Homo sapiens: one gene and its partner. The protein of the gene in region 1 purifies or fractionates together with the protein of each later gene. This does not show direct contact. Each region holds a gene or a part of one and is shown in the gene's direction. Other genes may lie near its edges.

Region 1 (3,921 bases):
TTTTGAGTGGAAGTAGCTCTCAACAGTTGGGGGAGCCAGAAGGGAAATGGTTTTCCCCTGGAATCGGGCTGCTCCGCAGCACCGGCTCTCCTTGGACTGCCCCAGCCAAACTCCGCGTCCTTCTGGTGGGTGGCCTGCCCGCGTGCCAGCGTCTGTCATGTCTTCTTCCGCCAACATGTTCCTCTGGATGTCCAGCGGCTTGTGTGTCTGCTTGCTAGGGTCTCAGAGTATTTATAGGGACAGGATGGGGGCGGGAACAGGATGGGGGCGTGGCAGGCCAGGGTGGTCTTGGGAAACGCAACATTTGGGCAGGAAAACAAAAATGCCTGCCCTCACCTAGGTCAGTTGGCACAGGGCCAGGGGTGGAGCCCTAGCCAGGGACCACACCCTCCTGTACCCAGCACCTCCCTTTCCCCCTTCCATATCATTTAAAGGGACCCCGCCCTTCCCTCCCCAGCACTCCCCTTCCCCACCTCCTTATCAATGTCATCACCCTGGACTGACTCCAGGAATCACTGTAATGTGGGCTTAATAAGAACAGAGCTCGGCTGGCCGCGGTGGCTCACCCTGTCATCCCAGCACTTTGGGAGGCTGAGGCGGGTGGATCGCTTGAGCCCAGGAGTTCGAGACTAGCCTGGGCAAGATGGCAAAACCCCATTTCTACAAAAAATATACAAAAATTAGCCAGGTGTAGTGGCGCGCCCCTGTAGTCTCAGCTACTCTGGAGGCCGAGGTGGGAGAATCACTTGAACCTGGGAGGCAGAGGTTACAGTAAGCCGAGATAGCGCCACTGCATTCCAGTCTGAGCGACAGAGGGAGACCCTGTCTCAAAACAAAACAAAAACAAAACAAACAAAAAGCGGAGCTGACAGTCAAGGTGAATTTCACGTTTGCCTGTATTCAGTTTTAGCATTACATAAACCAAAAGAAGAATGCCATAAAGGCTACAGGCAGCTAATACAGAGAGGTGTTACTGGAAAAGGAACCAGAAAGAGTAAATATCTCCTAAACGTATGATGGGACAGAAAGATAAATGCCTATTACATATAGTTAATATCTGTTTGATTAGCCTTATTTACATTCTCCTTTTAAAAGGTCTTACATTTAGCATCTTAGATAGAACCCACAAAATTTAAATATTTAATAGAAACTTAAAATTCCTGTATCAGAGGACAGAAATATATTTTTCTCACACGTGATTAGTCTAATTGCCACTATTAATCCTATTAATATTCTGTTAAATAATAGCATTTCTGTAGCGAAAAGCAAACAGTACGGAAAGATAATTTCAAACACCTAGTTTTCATATTTTTGTGTTAAAGTAATAACATATTTTGGTATAGATTATCATTTTTTGTTTGTTTTTGTTTTTGCTTTTTCTGACCTGGTGTGTTAATGCCCTGGGTTGGCCCTCTAAGAAGCTGGCCACCTACTTCGGGCCTCAGGTGTCAGACGCCCCAGCTTCGAGGTCTATGGCTCCCAGCAACTCGAGCGCCTGCGCCTGCGCATTCTCAGCCGGACGGGAGCGCCCAGAAGTCTCCGGGCGCCGGTGGGCGGCCTTGTGGACTGCGCCGGGCATGCTCGGCGGTGTGACGGCTCAGGACTGCATTTCCCAGAGGCTGCAGCTATCCGGCCAATGTAGCCTGAAACTACATTTCTCAGCGGCCACTGGAACGACCTCAATCTCTGCCTCCTCGCCAGTTCATTGTGGTCGTTGACCCGGCAGCGAGCTTTGGAGTTCATCGAGGGAGAAGTCAGCGCCCAGCTCCGAGGTTGGAGCAGCCCCGCCGGGCAACTTGAATTTCTGCAAACGAACACAGCACCGGGAGCTCTGCAGACCTGTGTCGGCGCGGAACCCGGACTGAGACATGCGTGAGCGTTGGGTGGACCGGGCGAGGATCCCGGGCCGGCGAGTGCGGGAGCGGCAGGGCAGGGAGGGTGCGTCGGCCGGGGCCGGTGTGCATCCGCGAAGACTGGGTGCATGGCCTCCATGCGAACCTGAGCTATTAATATTTGTTACTATTTTGGATAAAATCACTGTAATTGATTTATGTAAAGGAGCAAAAGACTCTTCAACTCTCAGTTTAAAAAGGAAACGATAGTTATGATACCTTTTGCATGCAGCGGGAAGAAATGGGATTGCCAGGAAGCCTCTTCTTGTTTGGAAAAAACTGTATAAAGTATTTACACCTTTTAAAGATGAGAGCAATGTCATCTGAAAATTATCAGTGCAGGGAAAAGGACTTCAAAGGATCTGTTGTGCAGATTACTTAACTAATGACAAAATTATGTAAGAAAGGAGAGCAAGATGACAGCTGTAAACATTTCCATCAATCTCCATATTGCACAGAAATAGGACCCAGCTTTTTCTTAAGGTTCTTCAATTTTGCATTATCCCACAGCAGTAGCTCTCTCTCTCTAGCTGCTAGGGGACAGAGGAAATTGAAATGTCAGAGAATCTTTTCTGTTGGTTTTTTATTTGTTTGTTTTTAAAGAAGAGTTGCTCTTAATTTTTTAGTTAGAATTAAAAGAAAGCATGCCAGAGAAACTTACGTTTTAAGTAAAAAGTGGAAACAGGTCGGGTGCCATGGCTCATGCCTGTAATCCCAGCACTTTGGGAAGCTGAGGCGGGTGGATTGCCTGAGCTCAGGAGTTCGAGACCACCAACATGGCAACATGGTGAAACCCCGTCTCTACTAAAAATATAAAAATTAGCCAGGCATGGTGGCGTGCGCTTGTAGTCACAGCTACTTGAGAGGCGGAGGTGGGAGAAGTGCTTGAAGCTGGGAGGCGGCGGAGGTTGCAGTGAGTGGAGATGGCACCACCGCAATCCAGCCTGGGCGACAGAGCGAGATCCCTTCTCTAAAAAAAAAAAAATATATATATATATATATATATATATATATATATAGATAGATAGATAGATAGATACATAAATTAAATTAAGTGGAAACAAGTGTTTAATTAAAATGAAATAAAGGATGTATAATGTTTACGTAATAACTCCAATGCAGTAGTGCCCCCTTAATCGGCAGTTTCACTTTCTTCACTTTGTTACCCTCAGTCAACCATGATCTGAAAATAGGTGATTTTGGTACAATAAGATATTTTGAGAGAGAGGGGCCATGTTCACATAACTTTTATTACAGTATGCTATTATAGTTGTTCTATTTTATTATTAGTTATTGCTATTACTCAATTATGGTGGCCGGGTGCGGTGGCTCACGCCTGTAATCCCAGCACTTTGGGATACTGAGATGGGTGGATCAATTGAGGTCAGGAGTTCGAGACCAGCCTGGCCAACATGGTGAAACCCTGTCTCTAGTAAAAATACAAAAATTAGCCAGGCGTGGTGGTGGGCACCTGTAATCCCAGCTACTTGGGAGGCTCCCAGGAGGTGGAGGTTGCAGTGAGCCAAGATCACACCACTGCACTCCAGCCTGGGCAACAGAGTGAGACCCTGTCTCAAACAAACAAACAAACAGAAAAATAAAAATCTCTTATGGTGCCTAATTTATAAATTAAACTTAATCATAGGTGTGTATGTATAAGAAAAAACATAGTATATATGGGGTTCCGTCAGACATCTACTGAGGATCTTAGAGTGTATCTCCCCCCTGTGGATAAGAGGGAGCTACCATAGTAAGAGCTAACTCGGCTGCGCGCGGTGGCTCACGCCTGTAATCCCAGCACTTTGGGAGGCTGAGGCGGGCGGATCACGAAGTCAGGAGATGGAGACCATCCTGGCCAACATGGTGAAATTCCGTCTCTACTAAAAATACAAAACTTAGCTGGGCGTGACTATGCGCCTGTAGTCCTAGCTACTCGGGAGGGAGGCAGAGGCAGGAGAATCACTTGAATCTGGGTGGCGTAGGTTGCCGTGAGCCAAGATGGCGCCACTGCACTCACTCCAGCCTGGGT
Region 2 (3,821 bases), on another chromosome or scaffold:
GGCCTCCCAAAGTGTTGGGATTACAGGTGTGAGCCACTGCGCCTGGCCTACTTATCTTCTAATTTAACTGAAAACCAATTTATTTGATTCAGTGAAATGGCATCAAACTGTAGTAGTGTTAATTGAAATATTTGGTACCTTGAAATGTTAAATGCCAAATTAAATCTCATTTTAATGAAATCTCGTGTAAATGTGTTTTATATGGTGACTATGTTTATTCTGAATTTTATTCTTATGGCATACTAAAAAAAAAAAAAATTTTTTTTTTTTTTTGTAATGGAGTCTTGCTCTGTCACCCACGCTGGAGTGCAGTGGCGCAATCTCGGTTCACTGTAACCTCCACCTCCCGGGTTCAAGCGATTCTCCTGCCTCAGTCTCCCGAGTAGCTGGTACTACAGGCGTGCACCACTATGCCTGGCTAATATTTTTGTATTTTTAGGAGAGACAGGGTTTCACCATGTTGGTCAGGCTGATCTCGAACTCCTGACCTGAAGTGATCCGCCTGCCTCAGCCTCCCAAAGTGCTGGGATTACAGGTATGACCCACTGCACCCAACCCATACTCAAATTTGACACTGAATTTTCATAAAGGCCTTAATTTATCTGAAACCAAACTATTTCAAAAGAGGAATAGCACAGCAAATTCTGTTGACTTAATGAGAGGATATGTGAAGTCTATTTATTAAAGCAAATATTAATTGGAGGCCAGTTAATTTGTACAGCTCTGCATTTTAGATATTTGAGAAATATTTATTTCCTCTCCAGTGAGATGTGTTAAAACATTAGTTATGTGATTAACAAATATGTGTACATACGTATATATGTACATACACATTTTGAGACAGGGCCTTGGTCTGTTGTTCAGGCTGGAGTGCAATGACACCATCTTAGCTCATTGAAGCTTCAGCCTCGCAGGCTCAATCGATCCACCCACCTCAGCCTCCCTAGTAGCTGGGTCTACAGACATATACCACCATGCTTGGCTGATTTTTTAATTTTTTGTAGAGATGGTGATCTTGCCCTGTTGACTAAGTTGGTAAATATTTTAATTGTTGAACTTTCTTGGAAGACTGAAAACCTGTGATAGCCATTTTATATAAGGAGAAGCTGAAGTTCAAAGAGTAGACTCATAGCAGAAACAAAAATAGAATTTAAGTGAATGGACTCAAAATATTGTACTTTTTACTTTATACTGCAGGTTTTTATGTTGTAATGCTGGTAATGAGCTCCTTGGAATATTTGGAGGAAAAGAGAAGGTTGTAATAATGGTTCTTTGGATTTACTAGAACATATCATGTTCTGCATGGCTCCTGTGGGTAGACAAGCCGGAAATCTCCTGGGTAACACAATGGTGGAGGTTCTCTAGGTGACGTTTGATTTCTCAAGTACATAGGACTAAACAGAAAAGGCCTAGTATGTTATATGAATGAGAGATCAAGTTTCTCAGGATATTCTAGGGCTAAAGGATCAGGCATCGAAGACAGAAATTGTCTAAATAAAATTTTTTCTATTCATAGTTTTAAAGGGCTAAAGGGTCAGGCATTGAAGACAGAAATTGTCTAAGTAAAATATTTTTCTGTTCATAGTTTTAAGCTGTGTATATGTGCATGTGTGTATTTAAAATAACTTCGTCAATGAAAAGAGTCAAACTCTGTAAAATATTTGAAGAGATTTATTCTGAGCCAAATATGAGTGACCAGTGGCCCATGACACAGCCCCAGTAGATACTAAGAACATCTGTCCAAGGTGGTCAGGCTATAGCTTGATTTTATACACTTTAGGGAGACATAAGACGTCAGTTAAACATGTAAGATGTACATTGGTTCCATCTGGAAAGGCAGGAAAACTAGAAGTTGGGGAGGCTTCCAGGTCGTAGGCAGATTCAAAGATTTTCTGATTGGCAATTGGTCAAAAGAGCTTATCTAAAGTCCTGGAATCCATAGAAGGGAGTGTCTGGTTTAAAATAATAGGTTGTAGCTACCAAGGTTTTTATTGTACAGATGAAGCCTCCAGGTAGCAGGCTTCAGAGAGAATACATTGTAAATGTTTCTTATGAGACTTTAAAAGGTGGCAGACTCTTAAGTTAATTTTCTCCTGGTTCAGGTAAAAGACTTGGAAAGGGAAAGGATTCTCTACAGAACGTAAATTTTCCCCACAAGAGAAAGCTTTGCAGGGCCATTTCAGAATATGTCAAAGAAATATAATTTAGGGTAAAATACTTCAATTTGTTTTATTTATTTATTTATTTTTTGAGACAGAGTCTCGCTCTGTTGCCCAGGCTGGAGTGCAGTGGCATGATCTCGGCTCACTGCAAGCTCCGCCTCCTGTGTTCACGCCGTTCTCCTGCCTCAGCCTCCTGAGTAGCTGGGACTACAGGCGCTGGCCACCATGCCCAGCTATTTTTTTTGTATTTTTAGTAGAGACGGGATTTCACCATGTTGGCCAGGATGGTCTCGATCTCTTGACCTCGTGATTCACCCGCCTCGGCCTCCCAAAGTGCTGGGATTACAGGCGTGAGCCACTGTGCCCGGCCTCAAAATACTTCAATTTCTTTCATGGCCTGCTATCTGACGTGATGCTGTACTAGAGTCAGGCTGGGAATTTGGCGTCTTATTGCTACAAAACATCTTAATATCTCTGTTTTAATGTTAATGCTGATCAGTTGTCCCTGAATTCCAAAGGGAAGAGGGTATATGAGTCATGTCCAACCCCCACTTCTCATTATGGCCTGAACTAGTTTTTTAGGTTAACTTTGGAATGCCTTTGGCAAGGGGAGGGTCCATGAGTCAGTTGGGGGTCTTAGAGTTTTATTTTTTGCTTACCGGTTTATAAAAAGTTAATGAAAATTATCATATTTCATAATTCTATATAATTCAATATTGTACTTTATTTAAAACTCACGTATAAAATAGCTGTCCATATCTGTTTTCAGAAGATGAGGATGGAGGGTAGAAATCAGAAGTGTCAGATTTGGTAATTTTCTTACACTGCTGAAAACCTATACCTACCACTTTGAAAGGATTAATTTCAGACTTGCTTTCTTTGGGCCTAATGATTCTACTTTGAAGTTTCTCTGATTAAACTAAGGAATAAATCTGATAAATGGACATTCAGATGATACCATACTTTTCCAAAAGATAACATTGCTTTTGATTACATATGCAATAAACATTTCACATTTTTTCTCAAGATTATTTACTGGCATCTGCACCAAAGACACAAAAAAGCAGCCACTGTTAAGGACTTTATCCCTTGTTCTGTTTTTAGCTGGTTTGTTGTTGTATTTTTCCTCATGTTGAATACAGTTAAACCCTATTAAACTGGATTCCCCATATTACTGTTAGTTGTCCTGATGACAATTAAGGATAGTTAGTAAATGGATATTGAATCATTTTATTTTTTTAGTAGTGATGGCGTTTCGCTGTGTTGGCCAGGTTGGTCTCGAACTCCTGGCCTCAAGTGATCTGCCTGTGTTGGCCCCTCAAAGTGTTAGGATTACAGGCGTGAGCCACTGCACCTGGCTGGATATTGAATTATTGAAGAAGGATGTTCCCTAACACTTCCTGCCTCTTTTCCGCTGTCTTACTCTCTCTGTTCCACCCAGTAGTAGTTGGGTTTTTGATGTCTGGCAAAGTATAGATTGTCTACTCTTCTATATTAGTTTTCTTCACTCTTTTTTTTAAAAATGTTTTTAAAGCAAGATAGAGACAGGGTCTTGCCGTATTGCCCAGGCTGGTCTTGAACTCCTGAGCTCAAGCAATCCTCCCACCTCACCCCATAAAGTGCGGAGATTACAGGCATGAGCCACCATGCCTGGCCAGT

Evidence for each region.
Region 2: the proteins of ZNF30 (region 1) and SPAST purify together in Homo sapiens (affinity purification with mass spectrometry; one large-scale study listed by BioGRID and IntAct). This does not show direct contact.

What each region holds. Positions count from the first base shown.
Region 1 is NC_000019.10:34,925,345-34,929,265, forward strand, and holds the start of ZNF30 (zinc finger protein 30), read left to right. Parts: upstream 1-1,558; 5' UTR 1,559-1,872; exon of another isoform or gene 1,873-2,375; intron 2,376-3,736; exon of another isoform or gene 3,737-3,755; intron 3,756-3,921. UniProt on the Homo sapiens protein: May be involved in transcriptional regulation.
Region 2 is NC_000002.12:32,069,811-32,073,631, forward strand, and holds part of SPAST (spastin), read left to right. Parts: intron 1-3,821. UniProt on the Homo sapiens protein: ATP-dependent microtubule severing protein that specifically recognizes and cuts microtubules that are polyglutamylated.